Linked DNA regions of Homo sapiens: region 1 is linked to region 2. Evidence: fine-mapped expression QTL. A gene starts in region 2. The other region holds a variant in brackets. All regions are shown on one strand. Distances are between the middles of the regions.

Region 1 (8,819 bases), 49 kb before region 2:
ATCTAACTGGGCATCCTGTATTTTATTTGGCAATCCTATTCCCTCTCCCTCGCCCCCTTTCTAAACCGTCAGCAACTCCTGTTAGTTATATCTCCAAAATCTATTTCAAGTCCTTCCCTTGCTCCCCATTTCAATGATTACCACCCTAATCCAAGCCACCATCTGGACTCTGGCATGGTGCCCTGAATGACCTCCCATTTCACTCTCCACTGAGTGACCACATAAATTTCTCGAGTATATATTGAGATCATGCCATTCTTATGCTTAAAACCCTTCAGTGGCTCTGACTGCAGAATAACACTTCAAATTTTAAGAATTGCCTCAATACCCGCATGCCTACCTGCAGCCTCTAAGGCCCTGTGTGATTCCGCTGCTGCTCACCCCTCCAACCTCATCTCAAGTCACCTCTCATTCTGTGCTGAAGCCATTCCGTCCTCTCCACATCCTCTGAATGCAGGGAGGGCTTTCCTGTTTGAGGACCTATGCATATGCAGTTCCCTTTGCCTCCTTAGTCTTCTCTGCGCTGGTTTTTCTCATTTTTCAGCTATTTTTAAATGTCACCCAAAGTATATTACAGTTTATTTCCTCCAACATTTCATAATTGTGCGAATTTTATGTTTATGGCTTTATCCCAAGAGACCCCGTTCAGCTCTGTGGCCTTGCACAAACCATTTCCCAAAGTTAGACATGCCTACAAGATCAAGAGGCTGGGAGTAAGATCAGAGCTTCTCGAAACCATCAGGCTGTTTATCAGCCCCGCCCACAACGTGGCACGGCCTTTCTGCGACATCAGATGCTGAGCTGGACCTCCTCCTCCCCACCCCCTAGTCCTCCCCGTCCTCAGGTGGCGTCTGCGGTCGAGGATGTAAGCATTCTACTCGTTGATTAGTATCGTTTCCATTGACAAACCCCAGACTGATGAAGACCACTTTCAGCTGCAGCCCGCCCCCTCCAGCTTCAGCTTCGAAGACACTATTGCCAGTGGGTTTTCTAGAAGTGGTGATCATGGGCACCAAATTATCCCCTCCCTCTCCCTGCATTCTCCCATTATCGTCTACCCTTGGTTAAATACGCTGAAAAAAGAACTGAAGCGGAGTTAAGTACGAGGAAGCCTTAAAGACGCACTTTCTGGCAGCCCCCCGCCCCCTTTCCCCGCAGTGGAGGCTGCCCCAGGTCTACAGGTGCCGCCTTCGCCCGGCCTCGCGTAGCCCACAGCAGGGGCCGCCCGCCCGCCGAAGTTGAAGGCGCACCTCCCCTTCCCGGGAAGGACGACGGTTCCCCAAAAGAGGCGGAGGGTAGTCTCTCATCTGAACCAGGCGCTTTAATGCCTGCCTGAAGCCACCGCGGCCAGCGTGGAGACCACGCAGCGGGCGGGCGGCTGCAAGCCCTGGGCTCCGAGCGCCTCTCCTGTGCGGGTCCCGCCCCCCTCCCCGCATTCCTCTCGTTCTGCTCCCGAGCCCAGGCCACGCTGAAGGAAGTACTTGGGCAGTCTCTTTCCTGGAGAACGGGCCCGCCGGTTCCGGAAGCCTCTCCTACCCCCAGGCTGGTCACCTCGGACTACCGACCCGGGACAAGAAGTCCAAGCAGACTGCGGCGGAGGTAGGCTGGCCTCAGCCCAGCTCCCCCAGGGTCTCCCCCGGAGCGCCGGCCTCCCAGCACGCGAGCAGCCCCCTCCCACCCAGTCCCGCGGCCGCCTCCAGTCCCCCTGCGCCCGGGAAGCCTCCACCTCGCCCGCCCTGACACCGAGGTCCCAGTATCCAAAGCGCCCCCAGGGCCCCGCCCGCAACAGGGGAAGTTGCAGCCCGCCGCTCTCGGTCACCTTGGCCGTCACCGAGGGGCCTCGCTTGCGGAAGCCCTCGGCCCCCGAAGAAAACACAAGTGCGCCGAGCCCCACGCAAAGCACGAGAGGTAGCAGCAGCCGAGGACCCGGGCCCATGGTGAGCGGTGGCAGCGGCGCTACCGGCACGGGCGCTACCGGCACGGGCGCGACACAGGCTCTGGGACAGCTGACGGGACTGCCGGCCGGCTGCGCCTGCGCGCTCCCGGTTGCGGGGGATGGGGATCGGGCAGTCCGGGAAGGGCGGGGACCCGGGGCGCGTTCCTCCCAAGTTCAGACTCGCGACCCGAACTTGGGATTCGGAGGAGCGCGCCCACAGGGCGCAGCCAGGGCTCGACCGCCGCGCCTTAGGCGGGTGCGGAGGGCGCCAGGGACGGGAGGGAGCCCGGGTTGCCCAGGCGCGGAGCCGGGCGCAGCGGGCTAGGCTGGGAGCACCTCCAGGAATTTACCGCGTAGGCGCGGATTAAACTTGGACGGGAAGACCAGGACTCTCGGGCTTCCGCGTCCGCCCGGCAGCTAGCGCTCCGCGGGACTGGGAACTCTGCAGCCGGTCCCGGTGTGATTGCTGCCGCCTTGGGAGCAGCCTCCGCCGCGGCCGCCGAGTTCCAATGGCCCATTGGAACCTTTTGCTAGGTTTTGGACGCTTAGCAGAACTTTGACATCGCTGGAGGCGTGGAGCCCTGTTGCACTCGAATAATGGCCTCTCTTTGAGATGATTCACGTCTAGGGAACACTGGAAAATGCTGGATTCACAGTGCCCCTTTGCCTTCGAAAAACTTTTACATTGGCTTTAAGTACTTTATTTGGAGGATGATTCTGTGATCTTATCTACACTGTTCACAAGGCAGCACTTACACAGGCCCAGAACCATGGTCATGTAGGATTCTTTCCTGGGGAAACAAAGTAAATAAACTGACTTTTAGGTGTATCTGTAGGATGGATTTTTTACAAACTTAAGAATTATGTTTAGGAAGATTAATGACTGGGGAAGTAAGTTCTTATTATATTTTTAAATGGAAAATTCGGGTTGCAAAACCACAAATTCTGATCTCAACCGTGAAAATAAATATATCAAGGCACTTAAATATTGAAAGAGATGTACCACAACGTTTACAGTAGCTATAGATAGAATTGATAGCTATTGATAGACTTATGGATTTTTGAGGGTTTAAAAAAA[T/A]TTTTTTTACAGTTTTCTGATTTCCCAGATGTTCTACAATGAGCATATAAGTATTTTATAACATGGAAAGGGTTATTTTAAAACTCATTGCTTTTTGAATTAGAATTTCAAAAGAACTTTTTTGTTTTAGAGTAACAGCCCTAAAATTAACTAAAAATTAGTGGTATTCGCACATAGGTGCCATTTTAAGGGGCTGGTGCCATTACTTTCAAGCCAAGATTTTCCTCGGATTAAGAGATGGAATTTCTAAATGTCAGATGGGATTCCTAGGTGTACCTAAGTGTAGATCTAAAATGACATTGGAACCATTAGAGATAAAAGGAGTAACCACTACTTCTTTGGGGTGAGAAAAAGGAGAAATGCAATTCTGAGCTATTTTTATGATTCAGTCCAGTGAAAGACCTAATGGCTTTCCTCTTCATCCCCACCCCCAATAAGGAAAGAGTCCCCCTTGTGTAGCAAGACAAGGGTATCTCTCAGAGCACTTACCCTACGAGGTGACTGTGAGGTGATTGTATATATTTATCTGTGTTCATTAATTGTTTTTGTCTGTCTGCTATCAGAAGTAAGCAGGGCCAGGGCAGGGATCAGGCCTATATTTATTCCCCTTTGATGACCCAGATCTAGTGCAATGCCTGATATATAGTGATTTCTCAATAACTATTTGTTGAATGAATGAATGTGTCCAACTACTTTTTATGCTACCACCATCTCACCCTCTAGGCAAAGAAATGAAATCTTTCCCAGCTCCCTAGAAACTCCTCTTATACCCTCTGCCAGTTACAAACACTTTTTTCTGCCCAAATTAACTGCAATCCTGACTTTTCTTGTACTATAGTTTAATTTTGTTTTAATTTTATTTGAATAGGGTATTACCGTATGTATTTCTTTTTGCTTAAATTTTTGTGAAATTCATCTATATTTTTGCATATAACTATTTTGGTGGCTAATACAAAGTAGGAAGCAAATTCATTTTTTTCATAAGAATATTCATTTATTTCAGTACAGTTTATTGAAAATTCTCCCCTTTAACTCACCGCTCCATACTGTTCTTCTGTCACAGAGCAAGTGCCCATGTATGCATAGGTGTGTTTGTGGGCACCCTATCTGTCCCATTGGCCTATTTGTCTGTCTTTGTGCCAATACTACATTGTCTTCATTAAAATAGCTTTATAATAACTCTTCATATTCAGTAATACATACCCTCTTAGCTTTGTTCAACAAATTCTTGGCTGTTCTTGAGCTTTTCCATGTCCATATAACTTGAGAATCAGCCTGTCAGTTTCCACACACTGAGATTTTGATGGGGATTGCACTGCATCTGTAGACCATTTAAGACTTGGCAAATTTACAATATTGAGTCTTCTAATTCATGAACATAGCATATTTAAGTCTTCTTTGGTTTCTCTCAATAAGATTTTATAGCTTTCTGCCCAGAGGTCTTACACGTATTTTATTAGTTTGATTTCTAAGTGTTTTTTTATGCTATTGTCATGTATTGTAGTAAAATTAATTTATATATTAACTTTGTATATACCAACCTTGTTAAACATATTCTAATAATTTATCTGTGAATTGTTTAGGATTTTCTCCATAGACAATTATGTCATCCATGAATAATGACAGTTTTATTTCTTCTTTTCTAATCTTTACATTTTGTATTTCTTTTTTGGCCTTTTTACACTGGCTGGGATCTGCAGTACAAAAGGAAGTGGCAACAGTGGGAGTCCTTGTATTGTAGACTGAATTATCCTCCAAAAAGATATATTGAAGTCCTAAACCTTGGTATCTGTGAATGTGACCTTATTTGGACTGCCTTTGCAGACGTAATCAAGTTAAGATGAAATCATACTGGAGTAGGGTTTGCCCTACTCTAATATGACTTGTGTCCTCATAAAAAGGGAACAGACACAGACACACGCACAGAGAACACCATATGAGGATGGAGGCAGAGATTGGAGTGCTGTATCTACAAGACAAGGGATGCCAAAGATTGCTGGCAACCCCCAGAAGCTAGGAAGAGGCAAGGAAGGATTTGCCCCTAGAGCCTTCAAAGACAGCATGGCCTTGCCAACACCTTGATCTCAGCTGCTAGTTTCCAGAACTGTGAGACAATGCATTTCTCTTGTTTGAAGTCACCCAGTTTGTGGCACTTTGTTACAGCAGCCCTAGGGGGCTCATACACCTTGTCTTGGTCCCAGTGTCAGAGGGAAAGCTTCAGTGTTTCACCATTAGGCATGATATTTGCTGAAGGTCCTTTTGGGGGATATCTTTTTTCAGATTCAGAAAATTCCTTTCTAGTCCTTGTTTGCTAAGAGTTTTTAGCATATATTTGATTTAAATTTTATTAACATCATCTATTGAAATCAATTGAAATAATTATGTGATTCTCTTACTCTGTTAATGTGATGAATTGCATTGATTTTCAAATCTTAACCCAAGCTTACATTCTGGAATGTGTCCAACATGGATTATCCTTTTTATATATTACTAGATGTGGTTTGGCAATATCAGTTTATTAACAAAGTTGCCAAAAACTGAATATAGACTATCTTCTGAAGTTCAGGAAGAAAAGAGTGGGTAAAATGTGGCTCTGGCTGTCCAGCTGAGACTGAGTTCGTCACCCACATGTCATTTCAGTGTTAGTGGGTAAATCTGCTAATCTTATTTTCAGGATATTTGCATCTAAATTCTTGAATGAGACTAGCCTGAAATTTTCCTTTATTGGAGTTTCCTCTCAGCTTTTGTATTAGAGTTGTTCTGGCCTCTTAATATGAGTTGGCAAATGGTAGCTGTTTTTCCCCTACTCTTAAAGGGTTTGTGTAAGATTACCATTTCTTCCTTGAATGTTTCTTAGAAGCCATCTGAGCCTGGAGTTTTCTTTATTGTAACATTCTAAATTATATATTTAACTTTTAAAATAGTTGGAGATTATTCAAATTCTCTATTCTGTTCCTTTACTTGAAGTATTTTTCAAGGAATATATCCATTTTATTTATATTTTAAAATATTGTTTTATAAAGTTGTTTAAAACATTTTTTAATGATTTTGTAGGTCTGCGGGACCTGTAGTAATGTCTTCTTTTTCATTCCTGACATTGGTTGTTTCTTTTCTTGTTTTCCTTGAACAGTTTCACCAAGGAAGCTGATGAATCCAATATATTTTATCTTATTAATTTATGTTCTAACTTTATTATTTCCTTCTCTCTGCTTTCTTTGAGTTTAATTTACTGTTATTTTTCTGTCTTCTTGGATAGACTCTTAACTCATCAATTTTTAAAGCCCTTCCTTTTTTTATATAGTACTCTGTATACAGTTAAAATGATAAAGTTCCCCTTGCACTTCTTGAACGTTTTGATATGTCATATTTTCATTATTCTTTGAAAATAATTTCTAACTTATATTTTTATTTCTTTTTTGACCCATGTGTTATATAAAGGTATAGTACTTTATTTCCAAACATGATTTTTAAAAAATCCTTTTGTTAGTGATTTCTAACTTAGTTGTATTGTGGTCAGAGAACATATTCTGTATTATTTCATTCTTTTAAAATATGTAGAGACTTGCATTATCACATAGGATCTGAACAATTTATTTGATTCTGCCCTCGTTAGATATAGTATTCTACATATGTGTTCATTAGATCAATTCATATCTCTATCCTTACTTTTATCTGCTTGTTATAAGAGTTACTGAGAGAAGTGTGTTAAAAATCAATTTCATCATTGACTCTAGTTTGTTTATTTCTCCTTGTAGGTCTGTAAATTTTTTCTTTATATGTTTCTTTATATATTTTTGAGACCCTATTGAATGCAAACACATCTAAAATTATCTTTTGATTAATTAAATTATCTTATCATTATGTAGTATCATTCTTTATTTCTAATAATGTGTTTTGCCTTAAAGTCTGATATTAATTCTCCGTCTACTGGATTGGTCCATTATATGTTCTTTTATTATTCTTTCAGTAGTTATACTAGAGATTACAGTATATATTCTTGATTCCTTAAAGCCTACCATTACTTGTCACCTTTACTCTCTGGGTAATGCAAAAAGCTCAGGACACTTACCTCCTTTTCCCTTCTTAAGAATTGTATGCCTTTGTTGTCATGTATTTTATTTTACCCCATGACACAATTATTATTGTTTAATAAAGTTATATACACTTAGATATATCCACATATTTACATTTTCATTGCTCTTCATTACTTCTTGCATTTCAGACTTTATGTGGCCATTTTCTTTCTGCCTGAAGAAGTACATTTGGTATTTCCTTAACTGCTAGTCTGCTGGCAACAAATTATTTTATTTTTATTTGCCTGAAAATGTCTTTACTTGACTTTATTCCTGAAGGATATTTTTGCCCAGTATAAAACTATTTTATTTCTGTAGTATCAATATGTTACTTCCTTTGACTTCTAGCTTCCATTATTTCTGTTGGAAAATCCACTATTAGTCTAATTGTTGCTCCTTTGAAAGTGATTTGTTTTTTAAAATCTGAATGATTTTAACATTTATCTCTCTATATTTTGATTTTAAAGCAGTTTTATTAGAATTTGCTTAAATGTAGATTTCTTTTTACTTATCCTACTTGGGACTCAGGATTTCTGACTCTTTACCAAGTTTAGAAAATTCCCAGTCATTAACTCTTGAAAAGTCAATTATAATCAATCTCACTACCCTCGTACAATTACTTTCTTTTCTTTTTTTTTTTTTTTTTTTTTTTTGGAGACGGAGTCTCACTCTGTCACCCCATGCCTGGAGGCCTGGAGTGCAGTGGCAGATCTCAGCTCACTTCAATCTCTGCCTCCCAGGTTCAAGTGATTCTCCTGACTCAGCCTCCCAAGTAGCTGCGATTACAGGTGCCTCCCACCACACTGGGCTAATTTTTGTATTTTTAGTAGAGACGGGGTTTCGCCATGTTGGCCAGGCTGATCTTGAATGTCTGACCTCAGGTGATTCACCCGCTTCAGCCTCCCAAAGTGTGGGATTACAGGCGTGAGCCACTGCGCCTGGCCCAATTACTTTCATTTATGCATATTTCTCTATACTGTCTTTTACATGCACAAGACATTTGAAGTAATATACTGTAAAACTGTACAATTAAAATTATAAATAAAATGTAAGACCATGACATGAAATCCAAACAGTACATGGATGAATTATAAGAAGATTAGCTAATCTGCTAGCAGTTATCTTTTGTAATACTAAAATAAACAATGGCAGCATAACATTTTTGTAGCTTGCTTCTTTTGTTGTAGTTTTGATCCATCACAGACTGTTTGTGTTTCATTTATTAATCATTTATGAGTACCAAAGGGTACAGTTTTGTCACATTTAGTGTTTTCCCCCTAGCTTATTAGAAGCAAGTTTTAGATTTCTGCTACTTGTAAAATAAATGTGGCTCTCAAAGCTGCATGTCAATGTCTTTTATAAAACTCTTTATTTATTTTTTGTCCGCTATATCAATTTCTTCCCTCATTTATGTAAATAACATCTTAGTTAAGTCAAATATTACCTTCCTCTCAAACTAAGACGGAACTGGCACAAATGCCTTTGTTAAATTACATTCACTTTTAGCAAGTAAATGCCTAAACCCTTGTTAATTACTAGCTATTTATTTGAATGATGAATTCTGCTTGGGAAATTTCCTTTAAATGTCAGAATGAGGGAAATGTACAGTGACCTGAGATCATCCAGGAGGCACTAGGGTCTCCTAGCTAGAACCCGAGATCAGGGCTGAAGTTACTGGGGCTCTCATACTGTTCTTGTCTTTAATGTGCCTAGCATCTTTTTCTGGAGCTAA
Region 2 (8,892 bases):
CTACCATGCACTAGGAACTGCCAACCCTCAGAAGGTGAATCAACCATAGCATATGTTTCTAATTCGAACAGATGTACTGTAACATGCTTACCTCATCCTGGTTATGACTGAAGTCCTATAAGCTTCAACTAATTTAAGCAACAATCTGGTGACCAACAGAAGACTGTGTCTGAACCAGGTAGCATTTGCTAGAAGAGCTTCAAAGAAGATTGTCCCAGAGATCCCTACCAATAGTCTCGTGCACACAGTATGTGTTCATTAGATATTCTGTACAGCTGTTAAATTGTAGGTAACTATAATTGGGTTTGTCTATTCTTACAGATACTTGGAAAAATATAAGATTAAATTCCTGGGGAAAGGGTGGGATGGGAAGGAGATAGTGAAGGGAATTTGTGAGTTTCTGAAGGGATAGCTATTCTTGTCTAATCATTTCTCTTTTCCTTGACTTGTCAAGACAAAAAAAAAAAAAAAAGGAGTTGTTTTTCACCCAGTTGCTATTCATTAAATCTTTATGGGACTGAACTGCCACCAATATGTTTTAAACTCACGAGACCTTTGCAAATTATAATAGCTGATTTCCCTGCAAACGGAAAGGATATATTTAGAGGCTTTCCTGGGAGAATGAACTGGCCCCAGGGATTCATAATGGACTGCAGAGCCTTTCACCTCAAGGTCAGTAGGTCAAATCCAAATCAGGCCTGAGGTGGCTGAGAGGCATCATTTGACTGGCAGCTGTTGGGTGACCAGGGTGAAAGGAACTGGAGGCTTCGGCTGCATTTCAAGTAACGTGAATAGGTGCTGTCTGCCAGGGTCCTGGCGGAGGATGAAAGAGAGTGGTCACAAATCTCCTGGGCTTGGTCTCCCGGACCCAGAGGCCATTTTTGACCTGGCAAAGTGAGGAGCTGAACTTCCAAGTACTTTTGTGAGAGGAGGAAAGCTGAGGGAAGGACATGTCTAAATTGCCAAGGCCTCAGAAGAGGAGGGTATGTCAGATGAATGGCGAGGCACCTGCTGCATCACCTGAGGCCAGAGCTGGCTTCTGTGTGCTAAGCATTTCACTGCCTTCTATCTCCTCTGCCTCACTCCTCGCACCCTTTCTTTCCAATGGTGGCTGGCGCTGTCTTCTGTCACTAAGTAAGGATGAACAAGTGAAGATGCAAAGGGATCAACGGGCAGACTGCAGTGATTAAAATTAATGGTGAGGGTTTTCTAGTTTTTAGTTGGGCAATACATTTTACACCCTGCTCATCTTAGACTCACAGCATGCAGGAGTAGGGTATAAAATATGTAATAGGGTGGGGAGGTCAGAATTCGGTAGCTGCTTCATAAAAGCTTAGGACAGAACACTGCATTTGTCCTGCCTCTTCTTTGGACTGTTGAAGAAATTGAGGTCCAGATAGTTGGAGGTCGGTCACCGTGTCAGGGTCTAAGTTACCAGCAAGTTAGGCGACTCCAATTGATGAGAACAGTCAATGGAGGTACTGAAAGAATATCGAGTAGTACACAGCAGCTTAAGGGAAGCAAGTGTGGCCAGTAGCGAGGAGGCAAATCCTTGACAGTTCTTCAGGAGAGGCCCCTTTTACTGCTTTAGCCACTGGCTATAGGTTAGGGCAGGGAATATCCCGCTCTGGACAGAAAACTGGCATCTTCTTGCTTCAAGTCTCTATTTAAATTTCACTTTCTAACAGAAGCTTTCCCTGGCCACTATATGTAAAACAGTAACTCCTTCCACCTACATGCACTCCCTTTCCCTCTATCCTTTATTGCTTTCCATAGCACTTATTCCCATCTAACCATTACTGATTTATTACTTACTATTTACTTTCAGTCTCCGCCTCCAACCCCCTTCTCCATGATCCCATTTCTGAGGGGTGGAGTGTCCTCCAAAAGTTGCCTGTGCCCTCAGGAGAGGAGGTTCCCTTAGATTCCAAGTCTGGGCAAGTTTCAAAGCTCCTCCCTTGGGAACCTCATAGGGATGGGGGTGGGGTCCTGTTTTTTTCTCACAGCTTTCCCTTTTGCCTGCAATCCAAGATCCTCAGTGAGAAGGCTCCTCCCTGGTCCCAAACCATGGAGGAAAGGAGCTTTCTAAACAAGCGAATGAACAGGTATGGAAGGAAAAAGGGCCACCGCAGGCCAGAGTCTCTGTGCTGTTTAGATACCACATTTTCAACCAAGTTTTTGCTGGCAGGCTCAAGGGACCTGTCTGCTAATACGGCTCAGCAAAGATTCCTCCTAGCTACATCCAGCCTTTCCTTCTCCTCCCGCCCCCCTCCTTTCACCTGCAGCCCACCCCCCACCCCCATCCATTTCCTAGGAAAACAAATCTCTGGGAGGAGGCAGGAAGAGTGGATCTCAGCGAACCCTTCTGAATAAATGTCTATATTAATGAATTATTAACTCAGCCACCCGTGACCTTAAACCTACTAGAAGCAGGAGCACCCAGGGCAGAGCGGAGAGCTGCTGAATCCTTTATTGGAGTCCTGTCAAAGGCAACCGACCATTTGTTCCACTCCCCCATCAAGAAAAAATAATATGAAAGGCAAACTTTTGAATTGTATGTTAAACGGAATCAGATAGAGGGTCTCCTGGACAGAACCCCCTTCTCTCCTCCTACCCCTTCTGCTGCTCCCTCCCTACCCTGGCCTCCAGCTACATCCTTCCCCTCCCAGCTCAGGGTACAATGGGCTTCCCAAGGATAATTTTCGGGGCGAAAATGCTCGAGAAAATGATGAATTTGGGTAATTTATCGATCCTGGCTCCTCTTCCCACTTGTTTTATTTTAGAGGTCATTAATCAATGAAGAAAAACACCACCGTGTCCCCCCGTTTGCATTTAATACACTCAAGGCTCCTCATTTATTCCTCTGGAACAAATTCCCAGCAAATATTCACCCATCGATTTGGGAGCGATGGATTTTTATAAAGGTTTGATCGCTTTCTAAGTGGTCGAAGTGATTTGTTTCCGTGGTCTTCTCAGTATTGAAGGGGGTGGGGGAAGCGGATTTGAGGGGGTGCATGTCCTTGCCGTCGGTGGGCTCACTTTCTAAAAACTATTGAGATGCGCCAGGGTGGCCGTGACCAAGCGGGCCCAGGGTCAACTGTGTGAGGGGGAAGCGCCCCTCAGAGCGCGCGCAGCGTCGGGGGTCCAGCTTACGCCGCTGCGCGCCCTTGTGCGCACCGGGTGAGGATGCCGAGCTCTGCGGGCATCCCGGAAGCCGCGGTGGAGGCAGGGGCCCCGCTCGGCGCAGTGGGCCTGCTGGGGAGGTGCAGGGGAGGTCCTGACTCCTGGTCTATTCCCTTCCAGACTTTTTCGTTCGCTCCCGGACCTTCAGGGCTCTCCCTCAAACTTTCTCCTGCCCCCTTCACGGGAGGTTCCTGTAGCCTCTGGGCCTTAGGGTCCCGTAAGCCTCGGGATCGACTTGTGCCCGGGGTGGGTGTGGCGGAAGCTTGAATCGGATTACCCAGGTACGCCACCTGTAGACGTAGTGGGCGAGGGGGACTTTGCTACCTTCTCAGCTTCTTCCCTGGACCCCGCAGCGAGGGGAACCAAATCTCTCCCATGATAGCCCCTCTGGCGTCAGTCTGGACCGAGTGGCTACAGGTTGGACTAGGGTAGGCAGAAGATGCACTTGGCACCTTACCGAACGGTATTTGAATCCGTCTCCATTACTCATTAATGGCGTGACCTTAGGCAACCCATCTAAACTTTCCGAACCTCAGCGGTCCCCATCTACAATATGGGGGTTAATGATAATGCCTTCTCCGCATGTAGGTGGATTAAATGGACATAAAGCGCCTACCCCCGCCCGGCACGTCCAAAACTCTCATTAACAGGTCAGCTAATCTTATTACGAGAGGAACCCTCCCTCCTCCGCTTCCCAGAGTGTGGGCGGCATGAGGCCACGGAAGCAGCTGCTGCAACTAGCATTTCAAAATCCAGAGACTTTCTAATGGTGGCAGGGGGTGAAAGGGTAGGGGGGAGGCAGGGTTGGGACAGGTAGAGGTAGGTTCTTGGGGACTTCCAGTCTTGGGGACCAAGCGCTTGGAACTAGCTGGGTTTGGGCAGAAACAAGAAGGCAAATGACGGGACCGCCGCCGGAGTCCGGACTTCCATCCCTGGAGTTCACTGTCTCTCCCAGGGAACAGAGGAGTGTCCTGGTTTCTCAGCAATGAACCAGGAGAGTGTGAGAAAGAGCATTTGTTTCTTCTCCCGTGGCCCGACAAGCCACTCTTCGGCAGTTCTGCGAGCAGATTAATTGAAACGGGCCTGGAACTTCATCCTCTCCTCCCGATGGAGTTGCTGGAGGTCTGCGGACACTGCCTGGTTAGCCTCCGGGACCACAGCGCCGTGGGCTTTCCCTCGTGGTGTCTGCCTTAAACTTGGGTGCTATCAATCTATCCAACAATGACGGATGACCTTGTCATAACGACGCCAGTCAAAACATTTTCGGTCTAACTCTCTTCCAACCAACATCGAAGCATCCTGAATGAGACCCGGATGAAGTCTGAACAGCACGTTTCCCAGGTTCAGAAAACTTGAGTGGTGGGAAGAGAAAAAGAAACAAGCAGAAATCAGGAAAGAATGGCTATTAATTGCTCAGATTGGCAAGTGCTAAATAAGTTAGGTTGTTTGGAAAAAGATAAATGCCGTTTCTTCTCTTTACGGTATGGCCAGAACCCCGGCGATGGGAAAGTACCTCCTGAGTCGGTCAATTTCACACACCCTGCCTGTGCCCTCTACCATCTACTACCGAAAATGCCAGGAAGAGCTGGGGGGCAAGTGCCTCCTTCGTGGGTGCGAGACTGCATCGAAGGGCTGCCCTGGCACAAAGTCTGGGGAGAGGACATGGTGGAGGTGGGGCTGCACTCCCACCCTGCCCCTCTAACACCAGGTTTTGGGTAGAGAAACCTATGCGTGACCTCCTGCGGCAGCCGCAGGCAGCTGACCGCAAACAGCCTCGCCCGTGTCCCGGAGCAGTTGTGCCACCAGACGTAACACTGGATACTTGTCTCCGGGCCCCAAGAAGGAGAGGGAAAGAGCCCTCCAGAAGACAACCCGAGAAGGGGTCAGCAGAGCGCTGGGTGGAGTGCAGACTCCATTGCAGCCGCCTCCCAGCCCCACGGCCAAGCTTGAGTCCCTCCAGGACCAGCTGCTCTCGGTCTCAGGACCCTCGGTCCTACGCCTCCCTGCACCGACAAGCCTCCCTCCTGGGCTGCAGACAGAGGGTTTCACTGCAGCGCGCAACCCGTCCCGCTCCGCCCCCAACTTTTCTCCCCGGAGGATTTATGTTAGAGGTTGCGTGGCGGGCGAGTGGACTCTGGCACCCAGAAGCACTTCAGGAAAAACTGAGCCGGGCAAAAGCGCAAACCCGGTCCTGGCGGCGCGGGCTTGCTCCAGCGCGGACACCACAGCGTGTGCGGAGATGCATTCCCGTTGCCGCATTTCCACTGCTTTCAAGATCAGGGCACTGAGCTGGGACCCAGAAAAGACATATCATGGGCAGAAAGAGACAACAGGCTAGCGGCAGACGTCACGCCAAAAAAACAGGGGATGGGAGGGCGGAGGAGTTTGTGCGGGAAAGGCGCTCTGGCGATGTGGGTCGGGCCGAATTAGAACTTCCTTCTTCCCTCTCCCCTCCCCTTCTTCTGGCCTGCCTCCCCTCCCCCCTCCGTTCTCTCTCTCTCTCTCTCTCTCTCTCTCTCTCTCTCTCTCTCTCTCTCTCACACACACACACACACACACACACACACACACACACACACACACACACACACACACACACACACTCACTCTATTTTGTGCTGTCGTAAAACCCACGTGTCCAGCCGGGAAGCTGCCAGAGCGTGGAACCAAGGAGCCAGGACGCGGCAGCGGCCAAGCGCAGCAGCCCACGGCGGTTGAGTCGGGCGCCCAGGTCCGTCCGCACTCTCGCGCCCTCCGCGGGCCTCCCAATTTTCTCGCTTGCAGGTCGGGAGGTTTCCGGGCGGCACAATCTCTAGGACTCTCCTCCCGCGCTGCTCAGGGGCATGTAGCGCACGCAGGGCGCACACTCTCGCGCACCCGCACGCTCACCGAGACACCCGCACGCACCCACCGGCAGCACCGAGTTTTCAGGTAAGGTGAGGCTGGTCTGGGACTTAAGAGTCTAGGGCTTGGTAGATAGGAAGGTTGGTGGTCCTAGGTTGGGGGCGGGCGGCGAGACTGTTCTGCCTCCTGGCGCCTGAGGCCAACGCGGCTCGGGCGCTGCGCCACGCCGGCTCGGGTCGGCTCCGGGCGCTGGCTGAGGGCGGGGGCTGCGTCCTGCAGCCGAGTTCTACGGGGCAGCGCCCTCCTGTCGGGCCCCAGCATTGCTGGATGGGAGCTGGACGCTGCGATCGGGGAGGCAGAGCAGGGTGCACACAGCTCCCTCTGTGCGGCGCCGCAGCTTCGGAGTAAACTTTGCGCCCAAGCGGAGTTGGGAAGAGGGAGCCGCGGAACCGGGCGGCCGCCGGCTGAACCACCGGCTCGGGCACTTTCTCCAGGGTCCCAGTGGCCCTCTTCCCGGCCCCTTTCGCCCAGCTCACGCGCCCCCTCTTCCCTGCCCTCTGCCCCCAGTTCGAGGCGCCGGACATGCTGAAGCCCGGAGACCCCGGCGGTTCGGCCTTCCTCAAAGTGGACCCAGCCTACCTGCAGCACTGGCAGCAACTCTTCCCTCACGGAGGCGCAGGCCCGCTCAAGGGCAGCGGCGCCGCGGGTCTCCTGAGCGCGCCGCAGCCTCTTCAGCCGCCGCCGCCGCCCCCGCCCCCGGAGCGCGCTGAGCCTCCGCCGGACAGCCTGCGCCCGCGGCCCGCCTCTCTCTCCTCCGCCTCGTCCACGCCGGCTTCCTCTTCCACCTCCGCCTCCTCCGCCTCCTCCTGCGCTGCTGCGGCCGCTGCCGCCGCGCTGGCTGGTCTCTCGGCCCTGCCGGTGTCGCAGCTGCCGGTGTTCGCGCCTCTAGCCGCCGCTGCCGTCGCCGCCGAGCCGCTGCCCCCCAAGGAACTGTGCCTCGGCGCCACCTCCGGCCCCGGGCCCGTCAAGTGCGGTGGTGGTGGCGGCGGCGGCGGGGAGGGTCGCGGCGCCCCGCGCTTCCGCTGCAGCGCAGAGGAGCTGGACTATTACCTGTATGGCCAGCAGCGCATGGAGATCATCCCGCTCAACCAGCACACCAGCGACCCCAACAACCGTACGTAGCCGCAGCCCGCGCGCTCTCTCCCGGGGCGCCGGCGCCGGCGCCGGCGGGCGCGGGTGCCTGTCAGGGAGGCGGGTCGGATAGGAGTGACACGGGGCCGGGTGGGTGGGGAGCACCTGGTCCTGGCCGCTGGCCCGCGCCTCCCCGATCTCTGTGACAAAAGTTTTCTGGCGTTGGAGAAGGAAAGAGAACGGATGGGACGGCCGGTGGCACTTTGGGGTTCCCTCTCCCTCCCTCTCCTCACCTGCTTCACAGTCCCAAGTGTTTGGGGCCGGAGTCTACCGTGGACCCGGCCTAACAGACCTCTGCCCTCCCGCCGGACAGTGCCCGGGGCCAGGCGGGTACTGGCAGCGTGTGACAGGGGGTGTCTGGGTCAGGCCCTGCCTGGCCTTAGCCGGGACGAGGGAGGGACCCTCAGCGTCTCTGGGGAGCACGCAGACCAGGGCTTGTTTTTGCTACTCTCCACCCCACCTCTGGAGGGGTCATTTTCGGGCCGCGGGGTTGTGGGGGAACCGGCGGGAGCTGTTCGCTGGCCAGGCCTCACTGGAGTAGGAATTTTAGATGAAACTGAGTCCGTTTCTCCTTGAAGGCAGGCAGTATTCTTAGATCTACTATTCATTTAAAAAGAAGGAAAAGAAAAAAAAATGACTGCTACTTACTGAGAAGAAAATTTCTGTTCTCCTCCGATTCCGCTGATCCCGCTTTATCCGCGCACCTTTGACCCCGCAAACATTCATAACCCATGTTGGTTTATGTATTTATTTTTAGAAATTAGGGTGACTGTAATTTAGTAAAAGACGCTTACTCCCCTCTTCCTCCAAGTTAATAGCAAATGCCTAACTAAACATCAGAATTCCTGTAGCTTCGGTTTCTATATTCACAATTTGAAACGCTTATCACAAGTACAGTTCCATTTGGCGGTTTTGAAGCAAAACTCTAAATGAAGATCAAGCAATATGTACTGCTTTATACCTGCTTCTTTTTGATAATTTCAGAAGTTATACTGTGTTTACACCTATACTGTGTTGGGAGTGTTAAACGTGCTCCCAGAGACTTCTGGAGATAACATTAAAGTGTGTTAAGAGCGTCAGATTGAAAGCAATACAGGATTTGAAAGATCAGCATTCATTCAGCTATTTTCTTCATCTCATTCCTTCGTCTGGCTTCTGTATGAGTAAAGTTAATTTAAAACATTTATTTTTATTCAATTTTGAATAAGTTGCTTCTTGCAAAATGTCTACCGCTCTGTGAACTTCTTAATTCGTTGTAAAAGCAAAATAAGTTCAGTTATAGCTCTTTAAAGGATTCCCTAAGTCGTTGATTTGATGAAAAAAAAAACACTGGGCAACTGCCTCGTGGTTGAGGTCTATGAATATTTTCATTATGTTGGACATAGCTGTGATGGAGATAATAATTACCAACAGAAAGAGCAATCGTATTTACTTTTTTCTTTATGAAGTTTGAGAGTAAAGCACTGGCTTAAAATAGTGGTTTCAACTCTAATTTTGCTGTGCAGTTGAGAAGACTTGTATTTCAGAGTTTCAGAAAGTTTTACAACATTATACTCTCCCAACAGATTTCAAAAAATACTTATCTCCTACTGAATTTCTTGAATGTGTGTTTTTGAAGCAAGTATTTTAAATTATGAAATAAAAAGATTTTTAAACTGCCTTGGAAAAGGTATG

Which allele goes with the higher level. Positions count from the first base shown, and alleles are read on the strand shown. Sizes are in standard deviations (SD) of each study's normalised expression.
With allele T in place of A in region 1, the expression in thyroid of the gene that starts at base 5,836 in region 2 is lower (small effect, 0.28 SD a copy in GTEx).

The links. PIP is the estimated chance that this variant, and not a neighbour inherited with it, causes the effect.
Region 1: its variant is fine-mapped to the expression of PRDM6 in thyroid (GTEx, PIP above 0.99).

Annotation. Positions count from the first base shown.
Region 1 is chr5:123,034,690-123,043,508 of GRCh38, forward strand. PPIC (peptidylprolyl isomerase C) reads right to left here and starts at 2,036. Exons shown (of 5, transcript NM_000943.5): 1 at 1,820-2,036. The coding sequence starts at 1,936. PPIC-AS1 (PPIC antisense RNA 1) reads left to right here and starts at 1,233. Exons shown (of 2, transcript XR_001742868.2): 1 at 1,233-1,599. RefSeq lists silencers at 732-904, 2,213-2,262. The variant T/A (reference allele first, on the strand shown) is at 3,015.
Region 2 is chr5:123,083,406-123,092,297 of GRCh38, forward strand. PRDM6 (PR/SET domain 6) reads left to right here and starts at 5,836. Exons shown (of 8, transcript NM_001136239.4): 1 at 5,836-6,114; 2 at 6,595-7,201. The coding sequence starts at 6,610. It overlaps PRDM6-AS1 (PRDM6 antisense RNA 1), which reads right to left and starts at 6,911. Exons shown (of 2, transcript NR_146771.1): 1 at 6,667-6,911; 2 at 2,826-4,534. RefSeq lists enhancers at 4,486-5,030, 5,031-5,575.